Linked DNA regions of Homo sapiens: region 2 is linked to region 1. The links come from fine-mapping of genetic effects on gene expression. A gene starts in region 1. The other region holds a variant in brackets. All regions are shown on one strand. Distances are between the middles of the regions.

The links.
Region 2: its variant is fine-mapped to the expression of ALOX5 in esophagus mucosa (GTEx, PIP 0.94).

What each region holds. Positions count from the first base shown.
Region 1 is chr10:45,361,986-45,377,613 of GRCh38, reverse strand. ALOX5 (arachidonate 5-lipoxygenase) reads right to left here and starts at 3,398. Exons shown (of 14, transcript NM_000698.5): 1 at 3,185-3,398. The coding sequence starts at 3,334. RefSeq lists enhancers at 2,411-3,019, 3,020-3,630.
Region 2 is chr10:45,415,239-45,423,238 of GRCh38, reverse strand. All of the region lies in intron 4 of ALOX5 (arachidonate 5-lipoxygenase), which reads right to left. Among named protein-coding and RNA genes, the nearest start is that of ALOX5, 45 kb to the right of the region's middle. RefSeq lists enhancers at 2,385-2,886, 2,915-3,606, 3,607-4,300. The variant C/G (reference allele first, on the strand shown) is at 3,435.

The sequences.
Region 1 (15,628 bases):
GGGGAGGCTATGGGGAAGAGCTGAGGAAAACAAGGGACGGAGAGAGGGATTGGGGTAGTGGATAGGGAGACCAAGGGGCAGAGAAGGGGGAAAATGTGGGACAGAGAGCCGGAGATTGAGGGAGCAGAGAAGGGGCCTCTGAGAGGTGGCTGGAAGACAGAGTGTAGAGGAAAATTCAGAGCAAAAAAGAAGGGAGAGTTGTAGGGTAGAGAGCAGAAACGGGGGGCATTTAGGGAACTGGGAGCAGGGGAAGGAAGAGGAGGCAGAAGAGGGGGCAGAATGTAGGGAAAAGATGGCTCAGAGGGGGAGACTGGGAGATGAGAGACGGATTGAGGGTCATACCAAAGAAATATTTATGCTCCACTAATATATTCCCATTCACAAGAAGGAGGTATTCTAGAATTAATTTTTCATGAATGTAAGAATACTCACTGACTTAAGAAGCATGAATCATTATAACACTTTTCTACACTTGTTGAACATATTCAAGTATCATATATTAAACACCACGCTATTGCCCTTAGCTTTCTTAAAAGTACCAGCACAGAATGAAATGGGCCAACTAAGATTTCTCAGAAATCTTCAGATCTGTTACAGTTATCGTATCCGATCTGAATTACTTTAAATTTACAGAGTTAAAGAAATAAATCAACTTGTTAAATTTGCCTAGACTTGGGTTAGCCTCTGGAAACAGGGCCATTCTGTGTAGGATCCCGGCTTTCTCCAGCAGACAGTGAGGAGCCAAGGAAGACACAACCGTTTATAGGATAATCCCACCTGCGAAGGACTTGATTCCCAGTCCTGACTGAATCACTATGCGGAACTCTGATGAGAATAACAAGGGACCTGTGACTCACTTTATCAAGGAAAAAATCAGTCCTGTCCATTATTTGACTGAACTATGCCCTGGAGGAGGGGGGTGTTGACCTGCCAATAACTTGGAAATGATTAAATTGTGTGGAAATACCTTTATTGTTATTGTTATCGTTACTACTGTTAACAATACAGATTTTAACACTTTTCCCTGTAAAATGGGATAACCTTGTCTTCTCAGCAAGTACTTCCTCTAGGGTTTCTCTTTTACCTTTACCCAAAAAGGATGATTGTCTTTACAGATACCAAGCTGGGAGAATGAGGAAGTAGTTCTGGGCTGGGCAAGAGAAAGTGTTGAGTAACTTTGCATCAACAGGAACTTTCTCAAAAGCTGATTTTTTCAAGGAAACTTTCAGCCTTAGCTGGTTCCCCACCCTGCGGTAGCCCCCACCCCCAACCACCCCCCGCCCCACCCCTGACTTATAGCCCTCTCAACCCAATGGAAATGTGACATGCAAATCTCTCCTGAAATTTGCCCCTGGGATTCCGGCTGAGGTGTTTAATTATAATGTCATTTGAATGACTTCTCAGGGTAGGGGAAGACAGACCGAGAGAGGGAGATAGTGGACAAAACAGTGCCTTCACTCTTTGTCCGAAGAGCCCGCTATGGCCACGTTATCATGTCCCCTGCAGGAGGAAAGCACACACGGGGTGCCCGTGCTGTGCAGTGTGAGCACACCAATGGCCTGTGCTTCTAGAACCTTATGATGTGTGGAGGAGAATGGGGAGGAGGAAGCACTTACAAAGGGGAAGTAGCCTGTACCCTGTCCTTCTCCCCCAGGTGTGGGGAATCCATGAAATAATGGAAGTAAATGAAGGTGCGTCAGAAATGGCAGAGGGTGCCATCACCCTAAATGGACGACACATTAACTCCAGGGCACCGCAGTCCTCAGGGTCAGTTCCCCGACTGGGGCAACTAAGCAACTGAAGGTTGCTCTTGTACTCAACACCTAACTCTTCTTGAAGGGAGCTCAAGCCAGGATGCTAGTGAACTTGGCTGAGGGCCATGTCGTGCTACAGCGAGGGTATGGGCTCCTGGATAGGAATCGAGCCCATGGAGAGCTTGGAATCCAGAAAAAGAGTAGTTTTTACTTACTTTAGGCTCTGCACACCTAAAACACAAATTTTATCCAAGAGTAATCAGTTGAAACATGAACTTGCCGGTTGTATTTGTCCATTATGAGCAATTTCACAAGGTTTGATCAAATAATAAACTAAATGGTGAGAAGGCAGCTTGGTAAAGTCTAAATCTTTTTGGTCCAGTTAGGAGCTGGGGTGGGGTGGAAGGGAACTGATATTCCCTGCGCACCTGCAGTATGTCTGGGACTATTACCAGTCATTTACGGAGCGCTTCCTCTGTGCCAGGTACTGGATTAGGCACTTCATTAAAGGCTCAGTGAGAACTGCGACCTGCCCATGCTCATGGAAAAGAGTCGTGGGGCTGGAATTCAGGTCCAGATCAGCATTAGGAACTAGCTTCCAAATGCTGAGGGCTCCCTCGCGTCCTCACACCTAGCGTGGAAGTGTTCCCTGGTGTACATTCTGCTGGGAGGGAGTGCAGCCCCTCCATTTAGGAAAAGCCTCTCCTGGCCTGGGTTCTGTTCCTTCCCTTTAATTTCCTCTGGGGACTGTCCTGAGAATGTAAGCTGCCCAGGTGCCGTCTGAGCCACCAGATGGGCCTGGGCTCACCCATGACTCATGGACCAGACTGAAGCCAACCCTCCATTTTCAGCTGGGGAAACTGAGGCCCAGACAGACGGTAGAGTGAGCTGGTGGTCATGTCTGGACAGAACTCAGGCCTCTGGACCCGCTGACGTGCACCCTTCCCCACGGCTCACAGCTGGCTGCTCCGAGGTGCCCTCAGAGTTCTGTGAGCATGACTCATCTGCCTCTCCCTCCCTGTGCGACCTGCAGAAGGAGCCTAAGGAAGAGGTGGCACAAGAAACGCGGCCCAGTGAAGGGGGCTCCGGAGCCTCGGAGCCCAGATCTTGAAGTGGAGGGGAAACCTTGGGCCTTCTCCTCCCAGGGAAGACGCCTTGCAGGCGGCACGCGGGAAGTCTCCGTTTCCGACAGGGGTCGCGGCCGCCGCGAGGGGTCCTGGACGCTTGCCCACCAGGGTACCCACCGGCCACTGGGAGCCCAGGGCACGCCCCACCGCAGTTCTGCCCTCCCTGACAGGGTCCTGGACACCCCCAGTCCTGTCCGGGCCGCCCCGACGGGCCCTCGGCGCCCCCGCCCAGGCCTCTGCCGTCCAAACCGGGTCCCGGACGCACCTCAGCCCGCGCTCCACCCGTGCCCCGCCCGCGCTCACCGCGCCACGCTCGAAGTCGTTGTAGAAGGGCTTGTCCAGCAGGTGCTTCTCGCTGCAGCCCGCCGAGCCCACGAGGCTGAGGTAGATGTAGTCGTCAGTGCCGGCGAACCACTGGCTGCCAGTGGCCACGGTGACCGTGTAGGAGGGCATGGCGCGGGCCGCGGGAGCAGCGAGCGCCGGGAGCCTCGGCGCGGCGGTCCAGGTGTCCGCATCTAGCGCCGCAGCCTCCTCCCACCACTGGTCCCTGGCCCCGGTCCCGGCCCCGCCCCGGTCTGGCTCCAGGCTCCCGGCTGCCCCCGCCCCCGCCCCCGCCCCCGCCCCCGCCCCCGCAGTACTTCTCTCCCACTCTTCACGCGGCGCCGACTGGGCGGGACCTCGCCTCGGGCGGGGCAGGGGCCTCGCTCCTGGGTCTCTCCTCAGCGAGGTGTCTGTTCCTGCAGCCAGGGGACTGGGGCAACCTCGGCTGCCACCCCTCATCCATTCGTTCACTCGTTCTCTCCTGAATTGCTTCCACCCTTTGCCCTGCCTGCCTGCCTCGGCTTCGCCCAAGGCCAGGCTCCTGTAGGCCCTGGGGTGGAGCTGCGGGGACTCCCTACAAATCTAGGCACAGCCTCTGCTCTCCCCAAGTTCTCAGTGCCACTTGCGGTACTTGGAGCAGGGGTGCTCCGGGAGTCTGCAGAGGAAGAGCGACCCATGAGAGAATCAGAAGGGCTTCCTGGAGGAGGCCACCCCAGCGCTGATACTGAGGATGGATTCTGGAGCACAGAGGCTCCTTCAGCGCGGGCTTCTTCACTGGCTGGACCTGCGGCTCCTGGCGGGGGCAGGCGGGCGCCGAGACCGCGCCCAGGCCCAGAGATGGCCAGTGGTCGCGGGAGGCAGGCGGGACGGCACATCTGGACATGCGGGGCTGTCTAGGGGAGGCCAGGGGTCACGGGTCGGCTCTCTGAATCGCGGCGGGCAAATGCCTGGAAGGGTGTGGAGAAGGTTTCGCGCGCTCCTGGGCGGCTTCCCGCGGCTGGGGCCTGACCCCCAGGTTCCCGCCCACTCCTGGCGCCCGCCTCTCCCAGCCCCGCCGGCAGCGCAGGGTCTGACGGGCACACAGTCGCGTGTATTGATCTCGGCTAAGTTTAAACACTAGCTCACCGTGCGTGGGGCGGCGGGGATGTGAAGTCCCCAAAGGCGGCTGCCTACATTCTCACCAACGCTTCATGTCTGTGAAGCAGCAGAGTCCCTGTAGCATCTCCTCATACTGTCTTGGGTTTGTGCACCTGGCAAATGGCTTTGAACATCTTTTCACATGCTTGTTGGATATCTGTATATTTTTGGAGAGATGTATATTCAGATGCTTGACTCTTTGGAAAACTGGGCTATTTATCTTTTTTATCATTGAATTGCATTATTTATATATCCTGGATAGAAGTCTCTAATCGGATACATGACTTACAGACATTTTTATTGCTTCTGCGGGTTGTGTTTTCACTTTCTTGATGATGTTTGAAGCACAAAAGTATTTAACTTTAAGTCCAATTTCTTTTGTCGCTTGTGATTTTGGGGTCCTATCTGAGAAACCACTGCCTACAATAACATCTTAAAGATTTACTCCTAGGTTTTCCTCTAGGATTATTATAGTTTTAGCTTTTCATTTACATCCGTGACCCATTTTGAGTTAGTTTTTATGCATGGAGCGATAGAAGAATTCAAATTCATTGTGTTGCATGTGCATGTCCGGTTGTCCATGCATCATTTGTTGAATTCATTATTCTTTTCCCATTGCGTTGTCTTGACACCTTATTAAAAAGTAATTCATTATAAACATAACGGTTTATTTCTGGACATTGATTCTAGTCCACTGATCTGTAATGTACATGCTATACAGTGCCACACTGCTTGATTACCGCAGTGCTATAGTAAGTTTTGAAATTGGAAAATGTTAATCCACCAACGCTGTTCTTTATTTTTCAATATTGTTTTGGTTATTCTGGATCCTTTGAGATTCCATATAAATTATAGAATCAGCTTGTCAATTTCAGCCAAAAAGCAAGCTAGGATTTTGATAGGGGTTGAGTTGAAGCTGTAGATCAATTTGGGGAATATTGTCACTTTAACAATATTAAGTCTTCTGATCCATAGAATATGTTTCAGCTTATTTAAATCTTTTCTTTTCTTTTCGACTCTTTGGAGTCTCCCTCTGTTGCCCAGGCTAAAGTGCAGTGGTACAATCTCGGCACACTGCAACCTCTGCTTCCCAGGTTCAAGTGATCCATTTACTTAAATCTTTTCTGATTTATTTCAAAATATTTTGTAGTTTTCAGTGCACTTTTTATTTCTAAATAATTTATGTTTGATACTATTGTAAATGGAATTTTAATTCATTTTGAGATTGTTAATTGCTAGTATATAGAAAAACACTTGATTTTTGTACATTCATTTTATATTCTGCAAACTTGCTGAACTTGTTTATTAGTTCTAATGGTTTGTGTGTGTGTACATGTGCACATTTTCTATATGCAAGATCATGTCATGAGCGAGTAGAGATAGTTTTACTTCTTCTTTTATTTGGAAGCCTTTTATTTCTTTTTCAGGGATAATTGCCCTAGCCAGAACCTCAGTACAAGGTCAAATGGAAGTGGCAAAAGCAGGCATCTTTGTCTTGTTCCTGGTTCAAGAGGTGAACACCCAGCCTTTCTGTATTAAGTTTGATGCTAGCTGGGGGTTTCCACAGATGCCATTTATCAGGTTGAGGGAGTTCCCTTTTATTTCTTTTGTTTTAAAGTGTTTTTATCATGAAATTTTCTGTATCAGTCGAGATACGAAATTTTTTCCTGTATGCTATATTAATATTATGATTATTTTCGTTTTAAAATATTTGATTGACAAATCAAAGTTTCTATTTCAAGGGGTAAAATGTGATGATTTGATATATGTATATATTGAATGCTGATTGTCACAGTCAAATTAACATATCTATCACCACCTATAGTTACCATTTGTGTGTGTGTATGTTGGGGGGGTGCTGGGGATGCTTAAAATCTGCTCTTATCCAATTTCAAGTAATAACGCAGTTATAAACTATAGTCACCATGCTGTACATTTGATCCCCAGAACTTATTCATCTTTTTTTTTTTTTTTTTTTTGAGACAGGGTTTCGCTCTGTCACCCAGGCTGCAATGCAGTGGCACTATCTTGGCTGACTGCAGCCTTGACTTTCCAATTTCAAATGATCCTCCCCCCTCAGCCTCCTGACTAGCTGGGACTACAGGTGTATGCCACCACTCCCAGCTGATTCTTTTATTTTTATTTTTTGTAGAGATGAGGTCTCACTTTCTTGCCTAGGCTGGTCTCAAGCAATCCCTCTGCCTCAGCCTTCCAAAGTATTGGGATTACCAACATGAGCCATCGCACCTGGCCTTCATCTCATAACTGAAAGTTTATACTCTTTGCCCAATATTTTGCTTCTTCCCCACATCCCCTAGCTCCTGATAAATACTGTTCTACTTATTCGTCTTCAAGTTTGAAATTTTTAGATTCGCATATAAATGAGATCATACAATATTTGTATTTCTGTGTCTGGCTTATTTCACTTAACATAATGTCCTCTGGGTTCATTCATATCGTCACAAATGGCAGGGTTTCCTTCTTTGTTATGGCTGAAAAATAGTCCATTGTGTATGTATACATGCACACCCCTCCCCCCATTTTCTTTATCCGTTGATGGACATTTAGATTTTTTCCTTATCTTGGCTACTGTGAGTAAAGCTGCAATAAACAAGGAAGTACAGATATCTCTTTGACATAGTGATTTGATTCCTTTGGATGTACACTCATAAGTGGAATTGCTAGATTGTATGGTAGTTCTATTTTTATTTTTTGAGGAACCTCCATTCTATTTTCCATAAAGGCTGTTGCAATTTACATTTCTACCAACAGTGTACAAGGGTTCTTTTTTCTCCATGCCCTTGCCAATATTCATTGTCTCTTGTGTTTTTCATAATAGCTTTCCTAACAGGTGTGGAGTGATATCTCATTGTGGTTTTGATTTGCATTTCCCTGATGATTAGTGATGTTGAACGCTTTTTCCTGCACTCGTTGGCCATCTGTGTGTCTTCTTTGAAAAAATGTCTATTCAGGTCCTTTGCCCATTATAAAACAGGTTATTATTTTTTTGGTATTGAGATATGTGAGTTCCTTATATATTTTCTATATTTTGATATTAACTTCTCATCAGGTATATGGTTTGCAAATATTTCCCTCCATTCTGTAGGTTGCCTTTTCATGTTGTTGACTTTCTTTTGCCATGCAGAAGCTTTTTAGTTTGATGTAGTCCTACTTGTTTATTTTTTCAAAAGTCTGTGCTTTTGGTGTAATATCCCAAAAAATTATTGCCAAGGCCAACGTCAAGGAGCTTTTCCCCTATGTTTCTCTCTAGGAGTTTTTGGTTTCAGATCTTACATTTAAGTCTTTAATTCATTTCAAGTTAATTTTTGTATATTAACTTGGGTCCAGTTTTGTATATTAAAAGGGTCTAATTTTATTCTTTTGTATGTGGATATGCAGTTTTCCCAACACCACTTATTGAAGAGATGAGATTATATTAATTTTATTTATAGCTATTGCAAATGGGAAATGGGATTACTTCCTTGATTTCATTTTCAGATTGTTTGCTATTGACATATAGAAATGCTACTGATTTTTGTATGTTAATTTTGTATCCTGAAACTTTACTGAATTTATCAGTTCTAATCATTTTTTTATGGAGTCTAGGTTTTTCCAAACAGAAGATCATACCATCTGCGAACAAAGGTAATTTGACTTCTCTCTTCCCAGTTTGGATGCCCCTTATTTCTGTCTCTAGTCTGTTCTAGCTAGGACTTTCAGTACTATGTTCCACTAACACTGGTGAAAATGAGCATCCTTGTCTTGTTCCAGATCTTAGAGGAATGACTTTCAGTTTCTCCCCATTTAGTATGATTCTAGCTGTGAGTCTGTCATATATGTCTGTTTATTGTGTTGAGGTATGTTCCTTCTGTCTCCAGTGTTTTTGAGGGTTTTTGTCATGAAGAGATGTTTAATTCTCTCAAATACTTTTTCAGCATCAATTAACATGACCATATGGTTTTTCTTCTTCATTCTGTTGATATGATATGTTACACTGACTGATGTGTATATGTTGAACCATATTTGCATCCCTGGGATAAATCCCATTTGGTCATAATGAATGATTTTTAATGTGATGTTGAATTCAGTTTGCTAGCATTTTTTGAGGATTCATCAATATTCATGTGAGATATTGGCCTATAGTTTTCTTTTTTTGATGTGTCCTTGGTTTTGATATAGGAGCAGTAATGGCCTCATAGAATAAGTTTGGAAATATTCCCTCCTCTTCTACTTTTTGGAATAGTTTGAGTAGGATTGGTATTAGTTCTTTAAATGTTTGATAGAATTCAGCAGTGAAGCCATTGGGTCTCAGGCTTTTCTTTGCTGGGAAAATTTTAATTATGGCTTTGATCTTGTTACTTGTTTTTGGTCTGTTCAGATTTTGAATTTCTTCATGGTTGAATCTTGTTAGGTTGCGTGTGTCTACGAATTTATCTATTTCTTCAATATTTTCCAATGTTTGGCATACAGTTGCTCATAGTAGCCATTAATGATCCTTTGAATTTCCGCAGTATCAGTTATAATGTCTGCTTTTTCATCTCTGATTTTATTTATTTGGGCCTTCTCTTTTTCTTAGTCTGGCTAAACATTTGTCAATTTTGTTTATCTCTTTAAAAAGCCAACCTTTCATTTTTGTTGATCTTTTGTATTGTTTTCTTCATTTCAATTTTATGTGTTTCTTTTTTTTTGGGTTGGGAAGTTTAGAGAATGGATTGATAGAGAAGTTTAATGGTATACTTCGCTGATGCTTAAAAATTGTACAGTCTAACAAGTGATCTCACTCTTTCTAAACTGCATTCTACTATCCTGTGTGAAAAAGGGAAATGGAAACTTCTTCACAGAATTAAAATTTAGATAAGAAAATCTAAACTTAAGGTTGTTATTTTTGCTATTTACTATTGTGATGTGGTATTACCCTGGCACCATGGAATGTGCGGAAGTGAAAGCCATCTGCTCCCCAGCCACTCCTAATGTTGGAAGGGGATTTATTTTAACAATTTGGTGTGTATGCCTGAATACTTTCCATGTGTATCCAGACACATAGTGCACATGCAGAGTTATATTAGGTATACCCATCTACAATTTGCTAGTAACATTTTCTTTTTTTCATTTTTATTATACTTCAAGTTCTAGGGTACCTGTGCACAAAGTGCAGGTTTCTTACATAGGTATAGATGTGCCCTGTTGGTTTGCTGCATCCATCAACTCATCATTTACATTAGGTATTTCTCCTAATGCTATCTCTCCCCCAGTCCACCACCCCCCAACAGGCCCTGGTGTGTGATGTTCCCTGCCCTGTGTCCAAGTGTTCTCATTGTTCAGTTCCCATCTATGAGTGAGAACATGCGGTGTTTGGTTTTCTGTCCTTGTCATAGTTTGCTGAGAATGATGGTTTCCAGCTTCATCCATGTCCCTGAAAAGGACATGAACTCATCCTTTTTTATGGCTGCATAGTATTCCATGGTGTATATGTGCCACATTTTCTTAATCCAGTCTATCATTGATGGACATCTGGGTTTGTTAGAAGTCTTTGCTATTGTGAATAGTGCCACAATAAACATTCGTGTGCATGTGTCTTTATAGTTGCACCATTTGTAATCTTTTCGGTATATACCCAGTAATGGGATTGCTGGGTCAAATGGTATTTCTAGTTCTAGATCCTTGAGGAATTGCCACACTGTCTTCAACAATGATTGAACTAATTTACACCCCCACCAACAGTGTAAAAGCATTCCTATTTCTCCATGTCCTCTCCAGCATCTGTTGTTTCCTGACTTTAATGATCGTCATTCTAACTGGTGTGAGATGGTATCTCATTGTGGTTTTGATTTGCATTTCTCTGATGGCCAGTGATGATGAGCATTTTTTCATGTGTCTGTTGGCTGCATAAATGTCTTCTTTTGAGAAGTGTCTTTTCATGTATTTTGCCCACTTTTTGATGGGGTTGTTTTTTTCTTGAACATTTGTTTAAGTTCTTTGTAGATTCTGAATATTAGCCCTTTGTCAGATGAGTAGATTGCAAAAATTTTCTCCCATTCTGTAGGTTGCCTATTCACTCTGATGGTAGTTTCTTTTGCTGTGCAGAAGCTCTTTAGTTTAATTAGATCCCATTTGTCAATTTTGGCTTTTGTTGCCATTGCTTTTGGTGTTTTAGACATGAAGTCCTTGCCCATGCCTATGTCCTGAATGGTAATGCCTAGGTTTTCTTCTAGGGTTTTTATGGTTTTAGGTCTGACATTTAAGTCTTTAATCCATCTTGAATTAATTTTTGTATAAGGTGTAAGGAAGGGATCCAGTTTCATCTTTCTACATATGGCTAGCCAGTTTTCCCAGCACCATTTATTAAATAGGGAATCCTTTCCCCATTTCTTGTTTTTCTCAGGTTTGTCAAAGATCAGACAGTTGTCGATATGCAGCATTATTTCTGAGGGCTCTGTTCTGTTCCATTGATCTATATCTCTGTTTTGGTAACAGTACCAAGCTGTTTTGGTTACTGTAGCCTTGTAGTATAGCTTGAAGTCAGGTAGTGTGATGCCTCCAGCCTTGTTCTTTTGGCTCAGGATTGACTTGGTGATGCGGGCTCTTTTTTGGTTCCATATGAACTTTAAAGTAGTTTTTTCCAATTATGTGAAGAAAGTAATTGGTAGCTTGATGGGGATGGCATTGAATCTGTAAATTACCTTGGGCAGTATGGCCATTTTCACAATATTGATTCTTCCTACCCATGAGCATGGAATGTTCTTCCATTTGTTTGTATCCTCTTTTATTTCGTTGAGCAGTGGTTTGTAGTTCTCCTTGAAGAGGTGCTTCACATCCCTTGTAAGGTGGATTCCTAGGTATTTTATTCTCTTTGAAGCAATTGTGAATGGGAGTTCACTCATGATTTGGCTCTCTGTTTGTCTGTTGTTGGTGTATAAGAATGCTTGTGATTTTTGTACATTGATTTTGTATCCTGAGACTTTGCTGAAGTTGCTTATCAGCTTAAGGAGGTTTTGGGCTGAGACAATGGGGTTTTCTAGATATAAAATCATGTCATCTGCAAACAGGGACAATTTGACTTCCTCTTTTCCTAATTGAATACCCTTTATTTCCTTCTCCTGCCTGATTGCCCTGGACAGATCTTCCAGCACTATGTTGAATAGGAGTGGTGAGAGAGGGCATCCCTGTCTTGTGCCAATTTTCAAAGGGAATGCTTCCAGTTTTTGCCCATTCAGTATGATATTGGCTGTGGGTTTGACATAGATAGCTCTTATTATTTTGAGATACGTCCCAGCAATACCTAATTTATTGAGAGTTTTTAACATGAAGTGTTGTTGAATTTTGTCAAAGGCCTTTTCTGCATCTATTGAGATAATCATGTGGTTTTTGTCTTTGGTTCTGTTTATATGCTGGATTACATTTATTGATTTGCATATGTTGAACAAGCCTTGCATCCTAGGGATGAAGCCTACTTGATCATGGTGGATAAGCTTTTTGATGTGCTGCTGGATTTGGTTTGCCAGTATTTTATTGAGGATTTTGGCATCAATGTTCCTCAAGGATATTGGTCTAAAATCCTCTTTTTTGGTTTTGTCTCTGCCCGGCTTTGGTATCAGGATGATGCTGGCCTCATAAAATGAGTTAGGGAGGATTCCCTCTTTTTCTATTGATTGGAATAGTTTCAGAAGGAATGGTACCAGTTCCTCCTTGTACCTCTGGTAAAATTCGGCTGTGAATCCATCTGGTCCTGGACTCTTTTTGGTTGGTAAGCTATTGATTATTGCCACAATTTCAGCTCCTGTTATTGGTCTATTCAGAGATTCAACTTCTTCCTGGTTTAGTCTTGGGAGAGTGTATGTGTCGAGGAATTTATCCATTTCTTCTAGATTTTCTAGTTTATTTGCATAGAGGTGTTTGTAGTATTCTCTGATGATAGTTTTTATTTCTGTGGGATCGGTGGTGATATCCCCTTTATCATTTTTTATTGCATCTATTTGATTCTTCTCTCTTTTTTTCTTTATTATTCTTGCTAGCGGTCTATCAATTTTGTTGATCCTTTCAAAAAACCAGCTCCTGGATTCATTAATTTTTGAAGGGTTTTTTTTGTCTCTGTTTCCTTCAGTTCTGCTCTGATTTTAGTTATTTCTTGCCTTCTGCTAGCTTTTGAATGTGTTTGCTCTTGCTTTTCTAGTTCTTTTAATTGTGATGTTAGGGTGTCAATTTTGGATCTTTCCTGCTTTCTCTTGTGGGCATTTAGTGCTACAAATTTCCCTCTACACACTGCTTTGAATGCATCCCAGAATTTCTGGTATGTTGTGTCTTTGTTCTCATTGGTTTCAAAGAACATCTTTATTTCTGCCTTCATTTCGTTGTGTACCCAGTAGTCATTCAGGAGCAGGTTGTTCAGTTTCCATGTAGTTGAGCAGTTTTGAGTGAGTTTCTTCATCCTGAGTTGTAGTTTGATTGCACTGTGGTTAGAGAGACAGTTTGTTATAATTTCTGTTCTTTTACATTTGCTGAGGAGAGCTTTACTTCCAAGTATGTGGTCAATTTTGAAATAGGTATGGTGTGGTGCTGAAAAAAATGTATATTCTGTTGATTTGGGGTGGAGAGTTCTGTAGATGTCTATTAGGTCTGCTTGGTGCAGAGCTGAGTTCAATTCCTGGGTATCCTTGTTGACTTTCTGTCTTGTTGATCTGTCTAATGTTGACAGTGGGGTGTTAAAGTTTCCCATTATTAATGTGTGGTAGTCTAAGTCTCTTTGTAGGTCACTCAGGACTTGCTTTATGAATCTGGGTGCTCCTGTATTGGGTGCATATATATTTAGGATTGTTAGCTCTTCTTGTTGAATTGATCCCTTTACCATTAAGTAATGGCCTTCTTTGTCTCTTTTGATCTGTGTTGGTTTAAAGTCTGTTTTATCAGAGACTAGGATTGCAACCCCTGCCTTTTTTTTGTTTTCCATTTGCTTGGTAGGTCTTCCTCCATCCCTTTATTTTGAGCCTATGTGTGTCTCTGCCCGTGAGATGGGTTTCCTGAATACAGCACACTGATGGGTCTTGAATCTTTATGCAATTTGCCAGTCTGTGTCTTTTAATTGCAGCATTTAGTCCATTTACATGTAAAGTTAATATTGTTATGTGTGAATTTGATCCTGTCATTATGATGTTAGCAGGTTGTTTTGCTCGTTAGTTGATGCAGTTTCTTCCTAGCCTCGATGGTCTTTACATTTTGGCATGATTTTGCAGCGGCTGGTACCGGTTGTTCCTTTCCATGTTTAGCACTTCCTTCAGGAGCTCTTTTAGGGCAGGCCTGGTGGTGACAAAATTTCTCAGCATTTGCTTGTCTGTAAAGGATTTTATTTCTCCTTCACTTATGAAGCTTAGTTTGGCTGTATATGAAATTCTGGTTTGAAAATTCTTTTCCTTAAGAATGTTGAATATTGGCCACCACTCTCTTCTGGCTTGTAGAGTTTCTGCCGAGAGATCCGCTGTTAGTCTGATGGGCTTCCCTTTGAGGGTAACCCGACCTTTCTCTCTGGCTGCCCTTAACATTGTTCCCTTCATTTCAACTTTGGTGAATCTGACAATTATGTGTCTTGGTGTTGCTCTTCTCGAGGAGTATCTTTGTGGCGTTCTCTGTATTTCCTGAATCTGAATGTTGGCCTGCCTTGCTAGATTGGGGAAGTTCTCCTGGATAATATCCTGCAGAGTGTTTTCCAACTTGGTTCCATTCTCCCCGTCACTTTCAGGTACGCCAATCAGATGTAGATTTGGTCTTTTCACATAGTCCCATATTTCTTGGAGGCTTTGTTCATTTCTTTTTATTCTTTTTTCTCTAAACTTTCCTTCTCACTTCATTTCATTCATTTCATCTTCCATCGCTGATACCCTTTCTTCCAGTTGATCGCATCGGCTCCTGAGTCTTCACGTAGTTCTCGAGCCTTGGTTTTCAGCTCCATCAGCTCCTTTAAGCACTTCTCTGTATTGGTTATTCTAGTTATACATTCTTCTAAATTTTTTGAACGTTTTCAACTTCTTTGCCTTTGGTTTGAATGTCCTCCCGTAGTTCGGAGTAATTTGATCATCTGAAGCCTTCTTCTCTCAGCTCGTCAAAGTCATTCTCCGTCCAGCTTTGTTCCATTCCTGGTGAGGAACTGCATTCCTTTGGAGGAGGAGAGGCGCTTTGCCTTTTAGAGTTTCTAGTTTTTCTGCTCTGTTTTTTCCCCATCTTTGTGGTTTTATCTACTTTTGGTCTTTGATGATGGTGATGTACAGATGGGTTTTTGGTGTGGATGTCCTTCTGTTTGTTAGTTTTCCTTCTAACAGACAGGACCCTCAGCTGCAGGTCTGTTGGAGTACCCGGCTGTGTGAGGTGTCAGTCTGCCTCTGCTCGGGGATGCCTCCCAGTTAGGCTGCTCGGGGGTCAGGGGTCAGGGACCCACTTGAGGAGGCAGTCTGCCCGTTCTCAGATCTCCAGCTGCGTGCTGGGAGAACCACTGCTCTCTTCAAAGCTGTCAGACAGGGACATTTAAGTCTGCAGTGGTTACTGCTGTCTTTTTGTTTGCCTGTGCCCTGCCCCCAGAGGTGGAGCCTACAGAGGCAGGCAGGCCTCCTTGAGCTGTGGTGGGATCCACCCAGTTTGAGGTTCCCAGCTGCTTTGTTTACCTAAGCAAGCCTGGGCAATGGCAGGCGCCCCTCCCCCAGCCTCGCCGCTGCCTTGCAGTTTGATCTCAGACTGCTGTGCTAGCAATCAGCAAGACTCCGTGGGCATAGGACCCTCCAAGCCAGGTGCGGGATATACTCTCCAGGTGCGCCGTTTTTTAAGCCCGTTGGAAAAGTGCAGTATTCAGGTGGGAGTGACCCGAATTTCCAGGTGCCATCTGTCACCCCTTTCTTTGACTAGGAAAGGGAACTCTCTGACCCCTTGCACATCCCGAGTGAGGCAACGCCTCACCCTGCATTGGCTCGCACACAGTGCGCGCACCCACTGACCTGTGCCCACTGTCTGGCACTCCCTAGTGAGATGAACCCGGTACCTCAGATGGAAATGCAGAAATCACCCGTCTTCTGTGTCACTCACGCTGGGAGCTGTAGACTGGAGCTGTTCCTATTTGGCCATCTTGGCTCCTCCCCCTTCTTCTAGATTTTCTAGTTTATTTATGTAGAGGTGTTTATAGTATTCTCTGATGGTAGTTTGTATTTCTATGGGATCAGTGGTGATATCCCCTTTATCTTTTTTTATTGAGTCTAATTTGATTCTTCTCTCTTTTCTTTATTATTCTTGCTAGCGGTCTATTAATTTTGTTGA
Region 2 (8,000 bases), 49 kb before region 1:
TTCAGCCTTGACTCTGGTTGCCCCTCAGAGCTCAGGCCTTTGCCTTGGGCCTTTGCACATCTGTTTCCTTCAGGCTGGAATGCTCTGTGCCCCTTTCTTTTCTGCTGTGGACTAAATTGTGCTCCCCAAATTCATGTGTTGAAGCCCTGACCCCCAGTGTGATGGCATTAGGAGATGGGGCCTTTGGGAGGTGATTAGGGTTAGACGAGGTCACGAGGGTGGGGTACCCGTGATGGGATTAGCATCCTCGTAAGAAGAGGAAGGCACCGAGGGCTTATTCATGCCCTGTCCCCCTCTCTCTGCCACGTGACCATGCTGTGGGAACACAGAGACATCTGCAAGCTGGGAAGAGGGCCCTCACCAGCAAGTGGATTGGCTGGCACCCTAATCTTGGACTTCTAGCCTCCGGACCTGTGAGAGACAAATATCTGCCGTTTAAGCCATCTGGTCTGTGGTATTTTGATGTGGCTGTCCCAATAGACTATGCCATTCTCTTACTGCGCACATGGGGTGTATCTGGAGGGCTCACTGGAGTGATGCTGTCTCTGTTCATTTCCTCTGTAGCTCTTACTGCAGCTTAAGTGCAAACTCACGTGTATGAATCTATGCCTGCTGCCCTATGCATGCTGAGGGCACAGTCATGCCTGCACTTTACTCAGCATTGAGCCCAGGCCTTCTAGTGTCCAGAGGGGCTCATGCAGCATCGCCTCATGGACTAAGAGGTGACCTCACCTGGTGCAGGGGACTGTGCCCGGGGCACTCCTCCAGTGGCTCCCCTTCCTGCCCACCCCTGAGGAGGCAGCCCTAGGTGGCCAGGACCCAGTGCTCTGCCTGGACCCACTTCTCAGGTGGAGCATGGCTGGGTCTGAGCTGTAGACACACACCTTGTCATGGGGAAAGCTGGGGAGTCAGGGACCTCCCCACATCCTCCTGATCCAGCAGAATGAGAGGATGGAGGCTGGGGAGAGCCTGGCTGATGGGACACAGGGCTTGGTGACATCCCAGCTCTGTTGTCTCAGGGGAATCACCCTGTGAACATGCATGAAGGCAGCAAACTGGAGCAACCACAGGGGGGAACTCCTAGGATAAGCAAGAGACACTGGGGGTCTCTCCTGCCTGCCCTGCCAGGTCTAGGGGTGCATCCAGGCAGAACAGCAATCCCCTTCCATCCTTTCTTAGCTTAGCAAATGCTTCTCTCCTTTGTCCTGGCTACCCTGGGTCTCCTAGGAGGCCATGATGCTCAGGAGAGGGTCCTGGGGCCACAAGGCTAGAGGCCTTTGTGAGTACTGTCTTTTTCTCCTCATGTGTCAGGATGAACAAGGAGCCTGCAGGTGACCGAGAGGGTGTACTGCTGGAAGTTGCCATGGCACAGCCTGGGCAGTGTGGCTGGCTTTGTGATGGGCTGCATACAGTAGGTGCTCAGTGCTACAGCACCCTGGAGCTGTCGAATAATACCAGCATCATCTTCCAGTCCTTCTGGTACCTTCTTCACTTGGATCCAGCCCCTTGTGGGGAAGGAGGGGCTTTTACACAGGTGCTTGCTTCCAGGGAGGCTGCTGTGGTCTCACCATGGCTACGACCAGCAGCCAGGCACTGGAATACCCAGAGAAGCTTCTTTCAGCCTTGCTGCCTCCTTCCTCCCCCAGCACCCCTCGTCAGCTGAGTGTTCTGGGCTAGGAATGCTTGTCAAGCTGGAGGGGTAAACCTCACTGTAGCATCTGGTGTCAGTCTGGGTGGGGAAAAGAACTTATTTCTGGGAGATGAGAGGCCTACGCAGGCCCCGAGAGCCCTGTAGGGCCTGAAGATGGCCCAGTGCCAGAGGGTGCCCCAGAAAGAGGTCCTGTGCTGGGGCACCTGAGGTCCCGGGTGGTCCCTTGCCCCTGTTCTTTGGAGGAACCAGGAGTGAGTCACCAATTACCCAGCTGGGTCTGTTTGACCTCAAAACAGGAGGTTTACTCTGAAAACAGGGTGGGTCTGGTAGTTCTCAGAAGAAGCCACAGATGTAGGAAGAAGTGGAGTTAGGAGGAACATATTTACATGTCATCTAGAGGCAAAATATTTCTATATCCTTACAGATAACTGGAATATTCAGGGCTTCGAAGACCCGCTTTTGTAAAAAGAAGGACCCTGCAAGCCAGAGAGGGCACCAGGCTTTTTCAAGGCCACACAGGCAGGTAACAGCCACCTTGATCACCTGGCCTAGGGGCAGTGACCTAGCTTTCTCCTGCATCTTCAGCTTTCTCCTGTGCCAAACTGTGGCCCAGGCTGGGCACCAGCTGTTGGCCATGTGCCCGGTGAGCCCCCCACCCCTCGCCCCTACTTCTCCCAGGACGGGCCGCATTTCTGCACTGTCCCGCCTCACTGGGAAGGAAACTCTCTTTCTCAATTTGCTTTAATGAGGCCATTGAGGTTCACCTAACCTCTGTCTCCCTGCTCTTTCCTTCTGCTACCAGCTTTTCCATTTTTTACGCCACAGTTGTGCTGTGCAGGGCAGGAGCAAAGCCTGCTGAGGAGGGCTGGCCCCCTTCCAGGTACAGCAGGTGGCTAGGAGGAACTGCGTGCCAGAATTACTCAGAAGCAGCGGCGAGGAAACCAAGCTGTCGCCAGCCAGAGGTTTAACGGGGAAGGCCTCCTCGGTGACTTCAGCCAAGTTTCAGTTTCCTGCCAGTGGGCACTGAGTTTAACCCACTCTAGGCGGGGAGTGTAGCCATCCAGATTTTAGCAAGGGCCCCAGGGGATTCTGACGCAAGCTATACTTTGAGAACCACTGCTGAAGAGTTTGCAATGTTTTCCAAATTAATTTGACTACAGAACAAATCATTTTTTTGAGGGAAACATGACTTCATGCTTTGTATTAACTCTTGGTCTTATTTTATGATGCATTTTTAACAACATGATGCTACCTTAGCAAATAAAATTGAAATTTTCTAGCCTCGTCTGATTTTTAGATGGGATACCACCCTACATTTTCCAAACAAATTTATTTTACAATGGGACACATCCCTGATTTCATAACAAAATTTAATGAAAGTCAATATGTTTTATAGGCATCAGTTAATAGAAGGGGATTATTTTTTAAATTTCCAAGGATTTCAGAGGCTTTCGGGTAGCATTTGGGAAGTTAAAAGTGGGAGAATCCTACTTGTGTCACAGGAAAAGTGGTTCCTATGAGTGCTTTGGTGACTTGGGGCCAAATGGTTTCTGAGTTGGGATGACGATAAGAGGGGATGTGGTCTTCTTCCCATATACAAACCCACGCTTTGCTTTCCAGTGCCAGGCCAGCAGGCCCCCTCCTCTTCCGGCCTCTCTTTCCTCCGCCATCACTTCTCCCGATCCCCAGCCTGGGTCCTCACCCTTCCTCCTGCTGCTACGTCCCTCCCTTCCTCCACAGGCACCCTGCCCGTCCACTGAGCTCAGGGCCCTTCTCTCCTGGC[C/G]TGGCCCCTCCGCAGCCTTCCTTGCCTGGGGGATATCGCTCCTTCCCTACACCCCTGGTGCCTTTTGAAACAGGGTCTCACTCTGCCGCCCAGGCGGGAGTTCAGTGGCGCAGATCACTGCAGCTTCCACCTCCCCGGCTCAAGCGATCCTCCCGCTCGGGAATCCCCGAACACTGGGATTACAGGCGTGAGCCTCCGCACCCACTCCCTACCGATCATCCCCCTTCAGGACGCTGCCATCCATGTAGCTGGGTCGTCTGGAGCACGGGGCATGTGGCTGGCCTGCGGGGCTGGGGGAGGGCCGGTGGGAGTGGCTGCCCTCAGAGCCCACCCCCTAGGCCTCTGCCTGCCCCCAGGTTCCCTCTCCCCCGTCCCTTGTCGGGAGTCACTCGTCAGCTTCTCTTCTCAGCCCGGCTGCGCAGCGCTCTCAACCCAACCCCTGGACTCATCTTCGCCCCAGCCTCCTTCGTGCCCAGCGTCCCTTGTAAATGACCCCCCCGGCCGGGTGCCCCGCTTTCTCTCTCGGCCTCTTCCGCGTGGTCTGCTCTCCGCCCGCCTGCGCTCGCCCGGCCTCCCTGCCTCTGCGCCTTCACCTGACCGCAAAGGCGGCCAGGGCAGCCTCCGCGCGGCCTGACAGTCACGGCTCCCAGTTTGTCCCTGGACGTGGGAAACTCGGGCTCATAGCGCCTCTACGTACACTGCGGCACAGACTGGCGTTTCCTACGGCGCCTTCACTGGAAAGCGCCCCTGTGGTCCTGGGGAGAGGGCGGCTCCATCCGCCACCCTTCCCGGAGCTGCCCCCGCCCATTCTCATGGGAGGAAATCGCAGGGCGTGTGAGCCCCCGACCCCTCGCCCCCACCTCTTCCAGGACCGGCCGCATTTCTGCACTGTCCCGCCCCACTGGGAAGGAAACTCTCTTTCTCAATTTCCTTTAATGAGGACATTGTCTTTTCAGCCCTGCCACCCCCTGCAATCGTCTTCCAGGCTGCAAACAGCGAGTGGGGAGGTGAACACATCAGCTTTTCCTCCCTCCACACCACCAGGAAATTTCGCAAACCACTTGGCTCTCGGCGGCCTGGCCTCGCCACACCTGTGCCCACAGTCTCTCTCCGCTGCAGCCCCCTGTGCCATTCTCCAGGCCCCACGTACCTCTGCCTGGGCCCAGTAAGACCTGGTCAGATGGCCCCCGGCTGCAAAGCCTTCCTGGGCCCCATCAGAGAGGACGCCCAGGTGAAGCGAGGGTCCCCTGCCCACCCTGCAAGCGCAGGGGCCCTTCCAAGAGTGCAGCCCTAGGCCGGTGTGTGATGGTGGAGACGCGGTCCCAGAGGGCCTGAACCAAGAATGGAGAAGACAAAGGCTGTCTTTAGGGAGAAACTTCCCTGAGGGGCTGATGTGTGCGATCCCATTTTAATCTCACAACCCTGGGGAGGAGCTGGGGCCGGGTCTCATTGTTCATTTGAGGACACCGAGGCTCAGGGAACTTAGACGACTTTCCTAGGGTCCCCCCAACCCCCACCGGCCCAGGGCCCTCTCCCAGGCACCCCTCATCCCCACACAGGCTCCTCTAAGCTGCTTCCTTGTGGTCCAGCCCCCTTGGCTCAGCTCCTCAAATACAGGGACACCTCTTCTCTCCCCCGCAGAACTCAAGGGTCTCCATCCACTGTGCCAGCACAGAGGCGGTGCTCAGAGTGGGGCTAAGCTTACTGTCCAGCCTGCTGGGCCAGGAGGGGCAGAAGGGCCCCTCTCAGGATTCCTTCGCTCTGCTCCTGCCAATAGGCCATCACTCAAGGGGCTAATGACAGGACGATGTGGAGAAACGTGGGCTGCAGCACTTCTGGGGCCAAGGGCAGGGTGGGCGGCACTGGGGAGTACAGGGGAGGGGACCTCACTGGGGCCAGAGGCTTCTAGAAGCTTCTGCAAGAAGGGGCCCCTCACCCATGTCTTGGCCAAGAAGTGGGGAGGGTGGGTGTGGCAAAGGAAACAGCTAGGTCAGAGACAAGAGATGCTCTGCAAAGCCCTGCTGGCTCCCCACGGTGGAGCATCCTATGCATGTAGGACCTGAGAGATGGCAGGGGCGGGTGCGTCCCTATGGATGTATCTCCATTTCTGGGCAGAGACATCTGGGCTCTCACCTGCAATTGAGCCAACCAAGAAATTATATTTACTTTTTAGAGCGAGCCTCCAACAAATTATACAAGCACTTGAGAATAAGCCCTCCCACTGTCTTGAGAGATGGAGCCCAGGGAGGCAGCTGGAAAGATGCTCCTGCCCTCACTCAGGAGAGATGGTGGAGCTGGGAGAGGAGGAGGCACTCCCTGGGACCCAGCAGATGGACTTGACTCAGCAAATAGATGCAACCATATGTGGGGGGTGGGGAGGCCCAGAAAGGCATTACAGGCCAGTGTTCTTAATCCTGGCTATACACTGGAATCCACCAGTAGCCCTAAAATATAACTGTGCTGGACTTCCCCTGGTTCCACAGTTTGTGCAGAGTGGGCAGCATGGAGTCTGTAACACTAAACACACAGGATTGAGAACCATATGTCTAGGCTGTTGTTAGCCATGATGGGGATACATGAAAAGGAGGTGCACAGTTACCTTCTATACCACAGGATAGGTGCTCATTAAACCCTGTTAAAATGGACTGTGACCCAGCTGGCACTCAGGGGCACTCAGGGGCCAGGTGGGTCACACTTTCATTTTAATAGGATTTAATGAGCACCTATTCTGTGACAGCTGCTAAGATACAGAGGCTCCTGAGATACAGAGATGACAATGACCTTCAGAAACACTGAACAGAGATAAGAAAGGCACAGTCTGGCCTTCACTCCACCATTAATTCCTCCATCCATCCATCCATCCATCTATCCATCCATCTCTCTGTCTATACTTCCATCCATCCACCATCCATTCACCATCCACCCATCAATCCATCCACCCATCTATCCATCCATCCATCTCACTATCTGTCATCCATCCATCCATCCACCATCCATGAATCCATCCATCCGTATATCAATTTCTCATCTATCTCTCCATCCATCCCCCATCCACCTCTTCTTCCATCCTTCCTCCTTCCCTTCATCCATCCATTCATCATCCATCCCTCAACCCATCCATCTGCCTGTCCATCGGTTTGATTGTCCATCTGTCCAGTATTCCTCCATTCCCTCCAAACTGGGTGGCAGTACTCTCCACCTCACTACCTCACCATCCTTATTATTCCCTCCAAACTGTCTCTTTCACAAGGGCCTTCTGTCCTGCCTGTCCCATCCTGGTCTGGGACCTATCCCACTAAAGCTACATGGCTTTGATCAACAATCCCAATCCCAGAGTAGGGGAAGGGAAGTGAGCCCCTAACTGCCGTGATGTTTCCAGGGAGATGGTGGATACTGCTGCATTACTAATCCAGATGTTAGGTTTTAATTTTTCTCTCCAGTAGACCCCAATTGTGGTAGGAGAAAAATGCCCCAGCTTTGGACACAAACAGACCTGGATTCAAATCCTGGTTTTGCCAATTTCTGCCTAAATGACTTTAGGCAAACTCCTTGACCTTGACCCCTTGGAGACTCAGTTTCCTCACCTAGAAATGGTCAATAATATTATTTACCTCCCAGGATGGCCATGAAGCTTAAAATAGATTATTGTACCCCCCAAAACACCGACACAATGTTTAGAAATAAATAATATTATTTTAAGCTTTGAAGTCTGGCTGGGTTCTCAGCCTCGTCTACCTGCTGGGTGTGCAGACTCAAAGCCAGGGTCCCACCCTCATAGACTGTCATCTGTGGGTGTGGGGTTGGCCTGGCACTAGCAGGTGCTAATGCTCCTCAGAGGATTCTAGGTGTAAAAGGAAATGAAAATCTTTGGACCCCAATTCACTCTGCCAAAAGGGAAAAATTAAGCTGAAAGCTGAGTGATGCAAGAAACGAAGATAGCTACAGATAAAAGGTGAAAACCTCCACAGGTAGCTCTTGGTGTTCACCTTATCAAGTGCTGATGTACTAAGCGCAAGAGGAATACATAACTGACTATTCCCCTACCTGCTCCTTTTCTTTTGCAACATGTGGATTCAGTAACGTGACCATGCCCTCCCTTTCTTCCTTCCAGCCTGTTCTCCTTTAAATATTGATGCCCTTAAAGACATCTTCGGAAAAAGGCACAGTCCACCAACTGTTCCTGTGGATTTGTGTTCCTTTTTTCCGTGTATGTCTTTTTTTTTATTATTATACTTTAAATTCTAGGATACATGTGCACAACGTGCAGGATTGTTACATATGTATACATGTGCCATGTTGGTGTGCTGCACCCATTAACTCCTAATTAGGTATATCTCCTAATGCTATCCCTCCCCCCTCTCCCCACCCCATGACAGGCCCTGGTGTGTGATGTTCCCCTTCCTGTGTCCAAGTGTTCTCATTGTTCAATTCCCACCTATGAGTGAGAACATGCGGTGTTTGGTTTTTTGTCCTTGCGATAGTTTGCTGAGAATAATGGTTTCCAGCTTCATCCATGTCCCTGCAAAGGACATTAACTCATCCTTTTTTATGGCTGCATAGTATTCC